Homo sapiens: one gene and its partner. The protein of the gene in region 1 purifies or fractionates together with the protein of each later gene. This does not show direct contact. Each region holds a gene or a part of one and is shown on either strand. Other genes may lie near its edges.

Region 1 (7,034 bases):
TTGTGGTATCCAAAGAATTAGTATAGAAGGCAAAATGGAATCAAATATCATGATGAAAAGTGTAAATGAGGGAATAAGGTCAGAAGAGAACATTCATTTATATGATTTCTTCTTTTTTTTTTTAACCTTTTAAACCTCTATTTAGGTTCAGGATACATACGCAGGTTTGTGACATAGGTAAACTCATGTCGCAGGTTGTTGTGCAGGTTATTTCATCCCCCAGGTACTAAGCCTAGTACCCAATAGTTATTTTTTCCTCTCCCTCCTCCCACCCTTCACCCTCCACCCTCTGATAGGACCCAGTGTTTGTTGCTCCCCTCTTTGTGTCCACGTTCTCATCATTTAGCTTCCACTCATAAGTGAGAACATGCGGTATTTGGTTTTCTGTTCCCTGCGTGTGTTTGCTAAGGATAATGGCCTCCAGCCCCATCCATGTTTCTGCAAAACACATGATCTCATTCTTTTTTATGGTTGCATAGTATTCCATGGTGTATATGTACCACAATTTCTTTATCCCATCTGCCATGCATGGGCATTTAGGTTGATTCCATGTCTTTGCTATTGTGAATAGTGCTGCGGTGAACATTCGCGTGCGTGTATCTTTATGGGAGAATGATTTCTATTCCTCTCTCCTCTGGTTGTATACTCAGTAATGGGATTGCTGGGTTGAATGGTAGTTCTGTTTTTAGCTCTGAGGAATCGCCACACTGCTTTCCCCAATGGTTGAACTGTTTTACACACCCACCAGCAGTGTGTAAGTGTTCCCTTTTCTCCACAACCTTGCCAGTATCTCTTAATTTTTGACTTTTTAATAATAGCCATTCTGACTGGCGTGAGATGGTATCTCATTGTGGTTTTGATTTGCATTTCTCTAATGATCAGTGATACTGAGCCTTTTTTCTTATGGCTGTTGGCTGCATGAATGTCTTCTTTTGAAAAGTGTCTGTTCATGTCCTTTGCCTTCTTTTTAATGGAGTTGTTTGTTTTCTTCTTGTAAATTTGTTTAAGTTCCATATAGATGCTGGATATTTGACCTTTGTCAGATGCATAGTTTGTGAATATTTTCTCCCATTCCGTAGGTTGGCTGTTTACTCTGTTGATAGTTTCTTTTGCTGTGCAGGAGTGCTTAAGTTTAATTAGATCCTATTTGTCAATTTTTGCTTTTGTTGTGATTGCATTTGGCATCTTTGTCATGAAATCTTTGCCTGTTCCTATGTCCAGAATGGTATTGCCTAGATTGTCTTCCAGGGTTTTTTATAGTTTTGGCTTTTACATCTAAGCCTTTAATCCATCTTGAGTTGATTTTTGTACATGGTGTATGTAAGGAAGGGGTCCAGTTTCAGTCTTCCAGAGCAGAACTTTCTAACTTGTGTGTGGGTGTTGTGCCCTGGGCAGGTTAACAGATCCCTCCAACTCGAGGAGTCTGGGTGGCTGGAGCTCTGCACTGGTCACCTTTGGGGTGAGTAGCCTGGCCCCAAAGTGACATACAAACATCATTTTCTGTGTGTGTCACAGCCTGGAGAAAGGTGAGAAGTCCCAGATGATATCAGTCTAAGAGTTTTGTACTTGACAGAAAAAGAGAACAAAGAGCCAGTCTGGAGGAAATCAGCAAGTGCCTTACATTTTTTTCCCAAGCTAGGCTTGGTGGCTCATGCCTATAATCCCAGCACTTTGGGAAGCCAACGTGGAAAGATAGCTTGAGGCCGGGAGTTTGGGACCAGCCTCGGCCACCGAGCGAGACCCTGTCTCTACAAAAAATAAAAATGAACTGGGCGTGGTGGTGTGCACCTATCATATCTAGTCTTTGGACTAGAAAAATCTAAAATGGTTTGGTAAGACTTTGCTGTTGCTTTAAAGCAATGGTCCCCAACCTTTTTGGCACCAGGGACCAGACTGGTTTTGTGGAAGACAGTTTTTCCACTGATAAAGTTGGGGGTATGGTTTCAAGATAAAACTGTTCCACCTCAGATCATCAGGCATTCGATTCTCATACGCAGCATGCAACCAAGATCACCACGTGCACAGTTCACCGTAGGTTCACTCTCCTACAAGACTCCAACGCTGCCACTGACCTAACAGGAGGTGGAGCTCAGGCGGTGATGTTCGCTCACCTGCTGCTCACCTCCTGCTGCGTGGCCCAGTTCCTAACAGACCACAGACGGATCTGCTGGGGACTCCTGCATATAAAGTAAGTGTGTTTGGAGGGAAAGTAACTAATTTAAAGAGATTCCCACCAGCCAATTAGAACAAGAAGAAAAAAAAACATCAGCAAATTGAAATATATTGTTTGTAAAAAGCCCAAGCTCATTAATAAGTTCAGATGAGGCAAACAAGATGAGCCTTAAAAAGGCACAAAAGAATTCAGTAATGTTTGCACTGTGTCTAGGATTGCTATGGAAAAAGTTTAGTTATTATAGCTTCCTGGGCTAACAAACACAGTAGTTGTAAAAACCAACTTAAAGGCCTAAACATTCAACAAAAAGACCAAGTTATACCATACAACACTGGTCTATGCAACTCAGATAGAGGAAAACTCCGTATTTCATTTTAAGGAAGGACATCAGGCTACAAGACACTGAAATTTGGTGTTTGGTTGAGGCCTTATAAAATCTCAGTGAAGGCAGGATTGGAGCTCAAAGCTGCCCTAACTAGTCAGATATGCTTGGCATCAAAGAGTGTGTGCCCTGTGCTGAGAAACTGCTTTGATGCACAAAGACCATGAACCAGGGAGCCCCACCCTGTTTTTACAGAAAGGGATGATCCCTTAGGATTTAACCCCATAAGATTAATTTTCCCCATAGGAAACTGTTAAAATAAGCATTAGTGTTACCTTAGGAAAGGAATAGGAAAATATAACAAAGATAAAATAATTAAATCTGTGATATTAATGAATAACTTTTGCTAGACATAAGTACAGGTATAGAAATAAGTTTTGTAATCATTGTACTGTTTGAAAGTCTTAGGAGAGGCTAGCTTACTAGATTTATATGTCTTGATTTATCAGATTTGTAGAAGTTCAAAAGTCTACTAAGGTTTGTGCAATTTGTAAGTTTGCATAAAGCATTAAAAAATTAGACATATTAAAATATGTCATCAACACTTAAATAAGAAAAAATAATTTCTTTGCCCTGTAAGCAATGTGCTGTGTTTGAGAAAAAAAATTAGTCTGACCAGCCTGCCAAACTATAAATTGGCCATGTATTATAGTAGGGAAACTTGTCCCCGTCTATGAACATTTCTCTTCGGCGTGAAAGTCGCGCATGCTCAGCAGCATGGTGACAGACGGAGGGAGAGGAAAATGCAGCTGGTAGATTATTCCTTGTGTCGAAGCATATGAAAAAAGTACTGAAAGGGTTTGACTGACCTGTAGAACATTTGGGGAGAATTTGAAAATACATAGTACATAGAAAACTAAGGAAAGGGGGGAAAGGCACTATTAATATAAGGCAAATCAGCATTACATAAAAAGGAAATGGGTTCCCATCCCACCACCTGGCTTAGCATCGAATGCTATTTAGTGATAATAAAGCAAACCTGTGGATCGGGACCGGGCCCTCGGCCTCTAGATTAGGAAGGCAATAGATAATGTCTAGAATTTGGCCGGGTGCCTGTAGTTCCAGCACTTTAGGAGGCTGACGCTAAAGGATTGCTTGAGGCCAGGAGTTCGAGGCTGCAGTGGGCCGTGATCATGCAACTGCATTCCAGCCTGGGCGACAGCGTGAGACCCCTACCCTAATAAAAATAAATACATACATAAAATAAAACATGATAAAGTTATTAGGTCAAAAATAGTAGTATACACGTTATGTAGAAATATGGTGGTAAATACCAGAAGAAAGAGCAAAGGGTTTGGAAGTGATTGCTTCTGGGGAGTTGGGAGGGCTGAGAAGGAGCTTGTTGTCTTTTATAACATCTCTTTTAACACCACCTGATTTTTAAACTGAATGTATATATAGTAATTTCATAAAAAGAAGAGTTAACCAACCCCCTCCATAAATTATATGCTATAGAAAATGTGAAAATCCAGAAAAACACAAAAAACATAAAAATTACCGTTAGAAACATTTGGTGTATAGTATTTCCCTCTATTCTGTCTGTAAATTGTGCCTACACTTACCTTTTTTCCTAATTTACATGGATAAATTTAAATTGTATGTATAGTTTTATATCTTTTTTAATGTAATCTTGTGTATTCCCATGTCATTACTGTGATTTTTATTATTATTAGCCCTATTTATATCCCATAATGTTGTACATAATGTTTTATTATGTACAAAACCTGTGAGTTTTACCTTCAGTGAAATTCCTAGAAGTGGAATTTTTAATTCAGATAGTATGAATGTTTCCATGACATTTTCTTTTCTTCCTTCACTTTATTGTATTTTACTTTTATTTTTGACATAATTCTAAATCATACTCAGGAAATACTGGTGTACCAATTTACAGTATTGTTACTGATCGTGGGTTCTTAGATTCTCATGCAGTGGAAATTGACATGAGACAGAGAAAGTGTCCCAGACAAGGCTTTATAATGGGCTTATGCTGGAGCAGGAGGGCAGCGGCACAGGGGCAGGAGTTCCCGGGCTGGCCCTCGGGACAGGTGTTCCTGGTGTTTTAGGGTGACATGGATAGTCATGAGGTGTGTCAGCAGCATTACACACGCTAGTGGCAGGCACCGGGGAACATCATGTTAGCACAGATGTGTCATGATCAGGGCATGGCAGATGAGCCCCTGAGGAGAGGGTTTTAGTAATACAACAAGGCAAGAGGTCAGGATCGTCGTTCTGATCCTGTATGCATGTGGGCATCAGGCTTAACTCCCTTGGGTAAGATTTGGGGTGGAACATGGCTTATCTTGTTTCCCTCCCTGGTTTGCATGGTCTGGTGGGCAGGTGTGATGGCGTGGGGGATGTATGGAAAATACGGGAGTGGGTACGGGCCAAGCTCTGTCCCTGCTGCCTCCGTATTACTTGCATGGCGTGAGAAGGATTGCCTGTCTTTGTCAGTATTAGCATGAATTGTTTTTGTATTTGCAAGGTTCATGGTTTGAAAAGGCATCTTTAATGTACTCTCCACCATTGCTTTTTGGGAAGGCTGTGCACCATGGTGTTAAGAGAGTGAACTACAGAGCCATGCGGTCCTGGCTTCCAGCCGTCATTCTGCCATTGTTGCCCTGGGTTCTCTGGAGACATGGTACTTAAAGAGCTAAGGCCCGATTTCTTTGCTTATAAAACGTAGGTGTTCTCAGCAGCTATCTCAGAGGGTAAGGGTCTTTCAGTGTGGACCTAGCACATAGTATATATCAAAAAAGTGATATTTTTTTCTGAAGTTGAAACTTTTAAATATAATTATTAGCTATTGTCTTTCTTTTTTGGGGGTAAATTTGTTAATGTCCTTTGCACGTGTTTCTACTGGGGTCTGTTTTTCCTATTTTTTTAGTAGCCCAGTTACTCCATTATTTTTCAGTTTTAAGAGTATTTTACTGATTCTGGCTGCTTTTTGGGTAGACCATCAAATTGTTTGCTAACTGTGCTCATTTTGTCTCCTTTCTGACAATCTCCTTTCTCATTATGTTTCATGAGTTGTATTTGCCTTTGCCAGAACTATCTGAACAAAGTTACACAAGGTTGGGACGACAGATATTTTTATCTTGTTCCTGTTTGGGGAGTTAAGGGACTAATGTTCTATCATCAGCTGTGCTGGTGGCTGCTGAAGTAGGTAATTCTTACCTTGTTAAGGAAGCATGGGAAGTACCACTTGCTGTTTGACGTAAGGGTGTTTATCAGGAGTAGGATATTCAGTTATTTAATGACTAACATAGTTTCTGCTAAGAAAATTAAATCTCTAGGACATCCTTGATTTATTGTTTCTTTGTTGCTCAGCAATTTTTATGTAAGGCATAGATAGAATTTTACCTTTCACGGCTGTCAGCAGTGTTTTCAACTAAGAAATGGAATATCATTACTGACCTCACTGTGGGCTTTGAAAATTGAGCTACATTTTTGCTCTTCCTTCTGCATTTGGTATTAACAATTATTGAATGTTAGAGATGGAAGGGAACCCAGATTATCTGGTATATGCTTTTCCTCATACAGAGAGGAAACTGGTATCAGGAGTCCAGTGATTTGCCCAGGGTACCAGAGCCAGGACTAGAGACCCTGTCTTCCTCCTGACTCGTGCCATCTCCTCCGAATATCCTGGTCTGGTTTCTCCAGTTCAGTGTTTCAGATTAAATCCCCTGACACAGTAAAACTCATGTGCACTGACTTCTCCTCCGAATATCCTGCTTTGGTTTCTCCAGTTCAGTATTTCAAATTAAATCCCCTGACACAGTGAAACTCATGTGCACCGACTTCTCCTCTGCCCCAGATGGTGTAACCTGGGCTGGCCAGACAGGCACCTCCCCAGTGGGCGTGTCTTCAGACAAAGGTGGCTTTGCTTTGTTGAAGTTACTGATATAAAGATCAGCGCCTGAAACAGATTCTCCGGGATATTACCGGAGACGGAGTGTTTTATTATTAGCCTTTCTTAGGTGGACATTTCCATTTGAATTAAAAGTCCTTTAGGCTGGGCGTGGTGCATGGCTGTAATCTCAGCACCTTGGGAGGCTGAGGCAGGAAGATCACTTGAGGCCAGGCGTTGGAGAGCAGCCTGGGCAAGGTGGCAAGAACCTTGTCTCTACAAAAAAAAAAGCGTAAGAGTCCTTCAGCATTTGAGGGGAAAACGTGTGCTGACGGTAGAATAGTCTAGGATGGGGTTGGGGGAGCATGTGGGACCTTCCCCTGGCCAGCTGACATGGTACTTAACCTCTGTCTTTTTTTTTTGGTTTATGGAGGAGCCATCTCACCTGGCAGCCTCTCCACGTGGGCTGAGCCCTCTTGGGGACAAAGACAGAAGTCCATGTCCCCAGGCCAGGGAAAACCCCACGTGTCAGGGTGTCTGCTGGCTTTGAGTCCTGAGACACGGACTTCACAGGCTGTGCTTCTTGCTTTGGGGCATCTCCTCTTTTCTTATTCTTAACCTAGAAGTTTCCC
Region 2 (7,034 bases), on another chromosome or scaffold:
CGGAATAAGCACGTTGGAAAATGAATGAATACAAAGTGTTATAAAGTAAAAATCTGTCTAGTCTGTGCTAAATACACGAATGCATGATAAACTGTGAGGTGTGGAGGCAGTCAGGGAGCCTGCCCTATTTGTGATTGTTTTTGAACTTCATGGTAGTAAGAGGTGTTCCTTACCATTTTTGCTTTGCAAACATTTATTCCCTGAATTAACCCACCACTATTATGGCCGCCATCATTCACTTATTCTCCAAAAATTGGGTAAATAAATACCATGTTTGTTTTTATTAACCTTTCTTAAATGTTGTATAGCTCACATTTATTTCAATATTGAATGTTAGAAGTGTTTTGGGTCTTTATTTAGAAGTTTGCTGATGTTTTTATGACTAGAAATATTGCCACAAGAACTTCACTCTTCTTTTTTTGTTTTTTTTTGTTTTTTTGTTTTGAGACAGAGTCTCACTCTGTCACCCACCCAGGCTGGAGTGCAGTGGCGCAATCTCAGCTCACTGCACCCTCCACCTCCGGGGTTCAAGCAATTCTCGTGCTTATGGGCACGCACCACCACACCTGGCTAATTTTTGTGTTTTTAGTAGAGGCAGGGTTTCACCATGGTGGCCAGGCTGGTCTCGAACTCCTGACCTCAGGTGATCTGCCTTCCTCAGCCTCTCAAAGTGCTGGGATTACAGGCATGAGCCCCGCACCTGACCAACTCTTGTTTATATCAATTAGCTGGTGGTAAAATTGGTTTTGTTATACGTCATTTCACTTACAGTTGCAGTTTCTAAGAACCTATTTTTTCCAGGCATGCTGTTAAGTGGAGACTTACTGAAGAGTGGGTAGATTGTATCTCAGTTATCTTGGTCCCATGGAGGATTAGGCTGTATCTATTCTGGTAAAGTAGAGTTAATTACTCAAACGTTTCAGGCCTCAAAAACCCTGGCTTGGCTCCATCACTTACTAGCTGATGGCCTTAGACTAACCATGCTTTGGTTTTCTTATCTGTACCATAGAGATAATATTCATACTACCCATAGAGTGGTTATGGCATTCAGTAGAAGAATGCATGAAAAGCACTGGAAGACATCTAGTAAAACTCTTGGTAATTGTTAGCTGTTCTTATATTGAATTAAAATGATTTGGTTTTGCTTTTAACTAAGCTTGCAGATAGATAATGGTTTCACTTTGGTACAACCTTTTTGTTTCTGGACTGTAAGCTGGTACAGCTGAGGTTGCTGAAGAAACCATTCAAAAAGAAACTAAATCCTGTCAGGGAATCAGAGGGGAAACCGCCGATATGACTGCCTTGCGAAAACAAAGCCCACACATCCTTCAGCACCAGAGCCTGGCCTCACTTCTCTTTGTATCTCTTCTACCCCCAGCCCCTAAAGGAGAGCTTCGCACGCTGCAGGCACTGAAATGTCTGAGGAAGATCAATTCCTTGGCTCTGTGCAGGTCTTAATACCAGCAGGCTGGCCTGTCCTCCCATACCCCAGTATCTGGCTAATCATGAAATATAAGTACTAATTCTGATAAGGATGCCCACACAAAGGACCTCAAATAGTGTGCTTTCCCAGGGTATTAGGGCTGAATGTGAGTTTTGAAAACTTCTTTCTCACATCATCTAGATCCTGCTTCCCAGTAAGTTGCCTTTCTTCCTTCTCCTTCTACAAAGCAGACTCCAATTCTCTAGTGCCAACAGAGGCAAACATTTCTTTCTTTTTTTTTTTTTTTTTTTTTTTGAGATCGAGTTTCGCTCTTGTTGCCCAGGCTGAAGCGCAATGGCGCGATCTCGGCTCACTGCAACCTCTGCCTCCCGGGTTCAAGCGATTCTCCTGCCTCAGCCTCCTGAGTAGCTGGGATTACAGGCATGTGCCACCATGCCAGGCTAATTTTGTATTTTTAGTAGAGATGGGGTTTCTCCATGTTGGTCAGGCTGGTCTCGAACTCCTGACCTCAGGTGAGCCTCCCACCTCAGCCTCCCAAAGTGCTGGGATTACAGGCGTGAACCACCACACCAGGCTGAGGCAAACGTTTCTTAATTGTGTGGCTCTCTCCATCACTTCAATAGTCAATCAATTGCCTGGGCTGAAAGGAAATCCTGTACAGGTGGAGTTGCCTGTGCAGATCCTGGGGAAATTTCCTGCAGTTTAGAATTCTTAGGTTTAGGTGACTTTGATCTTCCTCCAGTTGCTTTATTCTGTGAGGCCCTCATCTAGAATCCCCAGGGGTATCACTAAGAGGAAATCACTCCACTCTGGTGATAACTTTTTTCTTTGGTGAAGAACCTGTTGTCCCAGGGGCATTCTCCCCTGGGTTGTGCCCAGCATGGGCGCGCCACTCCTGGTTACCTGGCAGGCGTCGTGCAAGTTTGCCTGGGGCCCGCCGCTCCGAGTGTCTCCAGCACACAGCATGTTGTCGGTGACTGTTCTGTTAAGTAAATGTTGTGATGTGCAGCGGCTGGATGGGTACAGTCTGACATGAGCCTCCTTCAGCCGCTCCGAATAGAAAGGAGACACTGAAAGGGGAGAACCATCATATGGTTTTAGGGAAAGTTATTTATAAACGTTTTTGAAAGAGAAAGCCAAATTTTCCAATAATAGCTAACATTGATCAAGATTCAACATGTATTAGGTCGAATCCTATGACACTGCTGGTATTTTATCGTTTTGACCCACAAAAACAGCAGGATTCCGGGATTGAACCCACAGCCTCTCCGTAGTGGCACTGCTGATGCTTCGGACCAGGGAGGTCCCTGTTGTGGGGGATGGGGACAGTCCCGAGCCCTGCAGTGTGCAGCATCCCTGGCTGCACTCACTGAAGGCCGGCGTTAACCCTCACCCTAAACTGTAACAACCAAAAACGTCTCCAGACCTCGCCAAACGTTTCCTGGGGGACAAAATCACCCCAGCTGACATCCATTCGTTCAATATTATCTCATTTAACCCTCCTAATCTAATTAGGGAGATAGTTCTATCTCCACTTTACCAACGAGGAAACTGAGGCTGGGAGCAGTTCAAAATAAAAATCCATGTCCACGGTCACACAGCTCAGCAAGTGGGATTTGAAATCGGGTCTTTGTAACTCCAGCTTCCCAGAACCCACACGCTTAGCGACTGTACTCCACTTCCTACTCAGAACCTTCCCAACACCTGCAGCACTTCGAGGCCCTCATACTGTTGTGTCCTTTCCTGGCCTGCAGTGTCCCTGTGAGGCAGAGACAGCAGAGACGGGCCCCCACGACACAGGGAGACGGGACTGGCGTCAGTGCCTGACCCGGGGCTGGAACTTCGGTCTCCTGACCCCATTTTCCTCTGGTGGACCGCAGCCTCCCCTGCTGTCCCGCAGACAGGATGGGGCCGAGACTTCCTTCCACTTACAGGCCTCATGCTTGCCGTAGCCGGAGAGCTCACACTCCGTCCAGTCCGGCAGCTGCAGGTCCGCCGGGGGAAGGCACACAGTGCGGACCACGCTGCTCTCCTGGGCACAGCGGGACGAATCCGATTTCAGCTGCAGCAGCGCTGGGAGGGAGAAAGGAGGAGTGAGCTGGCGTGAGGGCCGCGTCCCCGGGAGGGGAGGAACACGCAGGAGGGGCAGGGGCTGGAGGAGGAGGCCCGTGTGTGTAAACATAGGTGAGTGCATGTGGGTGTGTTGTGTGATCTGTATGAACTGGAGCCGGGAATGACGAGCTCTTACCAATGTCATTGTCGTAAGTGTCATCATCGAATTCCTTATGGACAATGTATTTTTCGACTTCAAATTTCTGCTCCTCCTCGCCAGGGACCACCCGGTATGTTCTGCCCAAGATCACCGTCAGGTGGTGGGGCGGAAACCTGGTGGAGAAACAGCCTTAGAATGCTTTTTTTGCTGTGGGATTTCCCCTAAAGGGCTTGGTTTCTAGGCGTTAGAGGGTGGAAAAACCAACTGGGTTTCCGAGCCCCTACCTCTCCTGGAAGCAGTGGGCGGCAGAGAGAATCCAGCAGGAGCTGATGAGTATGCCCCCGCACAGGAACCGCTCTCCGGGCGACCTCCTGTGCTTGGCAAAGATGGCAGCCTGCCAGGGGTGGGAGGCGATGTCGGCGAAGAGCCCTCCTTTGATGCGAAACTGAGGCTGGCTGTACTGTCTCAGGCCGCAGGTGGCTGGGGAGGAAAGGACGAGGAGGCAGTCAGTCCCACAGGCCTCCTGCACGTGTGTAGGTAGAGTGAGGAGGCCATCAGCATGGCTGTAAAACCACAACTTTCACTTGGTGGGATCAGCATGCCGAATGTTGTCCATACATTCTCTTTAGTTCCCACAGCGATAAGTTTCAGGAGGCGGAGACGTTTTTGCCCAAGGTTGCAATGGCACCTGGATTAGTTCCCAAGTATGTTTGACTCCAAAACTGGGGATCTGCCATCCTTCATTCCTTCTAATGTTTTCCTACAGCCATTTCCTGGCCTAAGAAATGAAGAATTGCAGCTTCCTTCTGTGGAATGTCTGCTCATTTCTTTTCCATCTGTCCAACCTTACCCATGCTTCAAGGCCCAGGTGCAATCCTGCCTCCTCGCAAAGCTTTCCTGACGTCCCCACCTGCTCAGCTCTGAGGAGCTTAGGGACACGGACCACTGAGGACTCACACTAATGCCCTTGGGTGTGAGTTAGCTGGTGGTCTGTGTCTCATCGTCCCAGTTGGACTTGTGTTCCTTGGGGAACATTCTGGCTGATCTGTGTTCACAGGAGGTGATTAATAACCTACTCTCTGGCCATTTCCAAACTAAAGTTTCATTTTTTAGCAATATGCACCAACTTGAATCTCCTATCTCTCACCCACATCATGAGCCAGCTCCCCTGTGTGAAATAGGTCAACAGGAAACGTGGAAGATCTCACAGTGGAAGTACATGCCATTGGGGTCAGAGGGCATGAGGGCAGGCCCTAGCTTTACCTCCCGGTGCCCAGCGAGCTTGGGCAGGCCACCTGGCGTCTGGGAGACTGCTTCCTACTCAGTAAACTGGAGGTAGGAAGACCACCTCCACCACGCTGTTGGACAAATGTGGTGAAGGCACTTTATTATCTAAGGAGCCATGCATGCGAGGCCTCCTCCTCATTCCCCATTACTCTCAGCAACACCAATAGAGGCGTCTAGAGAGAGCCGGGTAGAGCCTACTGACTTCTCAGAGAGGTTGCTGTGTTCTTTTCTTTCTTCTTGCCCCTCCCCACCACCCCCATGCATGGGTCATGGACACCCGCCCACCCACCGTGGCTTCAGTCATGGAAGCCCCCTCCCCACCCAGCCTGGAAGTCTGGTAGGCACACAGTCTGCACCAGACAGCCATGAAGGCCTAGAAAGTGGCGAGGAGATGGTGAAGAAGGGAGACCAGGTGCAGGGAGGCAGCCGGGGCCCAGCCCTTACAGCAGGAGGGCACATCACAGTACTCCCACGTCAGCCTGCGGTTCTTCAGCACGTGGCACCAGGGCTTGGCATCCCCATCAGGATTCCTAAATGATAAGAGAGTTTAAGGTTTCCTTTTTATCTTCTTATTTTTTAATTTTTGTAGAGATGGGGTCTTGCCATGTTGCCCAGGCTGGTCTTGAACTCCTGGGCTCAAGCAATCCTCCTGCCTCAGCCTCCCAAAGTGCTGGGATTACAGGCATGCACCACCACACCAGGCCAGGAGTTTAAGATTTTCAATCCCATTTTCAGCCACATCACAGGCCATGTAAGAGTAGAAGGAGACTCAGTCAACCAATGAAAACCACTGAGCTGGGAGGGAGGACACCGAGTTCATCTTGACCTTGCAGCACACCCCCACCCTAGGAGAACTTCTCTTTAACTTTGTTACCCAGTCAGTAATGTAGTGTTCTAATCTCATAGGGTTGTCAGACAGAACTGTGAGCTGTCCTGTTACGGAACTCTTACAAATCATTGCAATAAAGATGTCAGGAGAACAGCTGAGGACTAAATGGTTACAGGCCAGGACCCTTAACTTGGGATTTAGGTTGGAAAACTGGTAGACCTTGCTTTTCACAATATGTGTTATTCTAGCAAGTGAAGAGGTTGGATTAGATAATATCCATGGGTGCTTCCCACGCACTGGGTCTGTCATGCAACTTGAGACATTGGATCTTCCCCCGTCTCACACCCTAATCCCACGTTCTGCCAAGACCTGAACCCCCCACCCCTGTGCTACCTACCGGCAGTAATTATGTTTGCCCAGGCCCAGTGCCTGGGCACTGGGGTTCTGTGCTGTGTAAACCTTGCCTATCAGGATCATGGAATTCCACGGGAGGCAGGAGGCACCCGACTCGGTGAGGCTGTGCGTGCCACGGTAGGCTGACCCATTCCCAAAGTAGCAGTCACTGTTTCCTAGAAGAAAAGAATTCTCAAACTGAAACAAAAACAAATTCTGAAGCACGCAAGTCAGGGCTGGGGCTTGAAGCGGAGCTGCCGGTCGAGGAAGCTGGAGGCCGCTAGCCCGGCACTGAGAAGAGTGTAACACCTCACACTTCCCCTTTTGTTGCCCAGGCTGGAGTGCAATGCGCGATCTTGGCTCACTGCAATCTCCACCTCCTGGGTTCAAGCGATTCTTCTACCTCAGCCTCCCGAGTAGGTGGGGTTACAGGCATGCGCCACCATGCTACGCTAATTTTGTATTTTTAGTTGAGACAGGGTTTCACCATGTTGGCCAGGCTGGTCTTGAACTCCTAACATCAGGTGATCTGCCCGCCTCAGCCTCCCAAAGTGCTGGGAGTACAGGTGTGAGCCAACACGCCCGGCCTGAGCCTTTTTCCCCCTCTTTGAGTCCTTTTACTTAGAGATGGCAAGGGGGTTTCATCTCCACCGGAAGTGGCTCCCTAGATTGCTATGTTGAGAGAGAGTCTGGGGACATCTTCAGGTTCAGCAGGAAGAACCACTTCCATGAGTGGGGGCTGTTTCTGAAGCTGCTTTGAAAGCCAGTAGGGGTTTCCTTGTGTTACTTAACAGGCTGCAGTGAACCAACGTGCTTCAGTGGGGCTGGGGTGGGGGTTATTTCTCGGACTGTGTCTGCCAGTGTCCTGA

Evidence for each region.
Region 2: the proteins of SERPINB6 (region 1) and PLAT purify together in Homo sapiens (affinity purification with mass spectrometry; 2 studies listed by BioGRID and IntAct, with this or other methods). This does not show direct contact.

Annotation. Positions count from the first base shown.
Region 1 is NC_000006.12:2,961,554-2,968,587, reverse strand, and holds part of SERPINB6 (serpin B6), read left to right. Parts: intron 1-1,997; coding exon of another isoform or gene 1,998-2,188; intron 2,189-6,457; exon of another isoform or gene 6,458-7,034.
Region 2 is NC_000008.11:42,176,550-42,183,583, forward strand, and holds part of PLAT (tissue-type plasminogen activator isoform 1 preproprotein), read right to left. Parts: intron 6,342-7,034; coding exon 6,170-6,341; intron 5,474-6,169; coding exon 5,388-5,473; intron 4,137-5,387; coding exon 3,941-4,136; intron 3,830-3,940; coding exon 3,693-3,829; intron 3,518-3,692; coding exon 3,377-3,517; intron 2,515-3,376; coding exon 2,348-2,514; intron 1-2,347. UniProt on the Homo sapiens protein: Converts the abundant, but inactive, zymogen plasminogen to plasmin by hydrolyzing a single Arg-Val bond in plasminogen.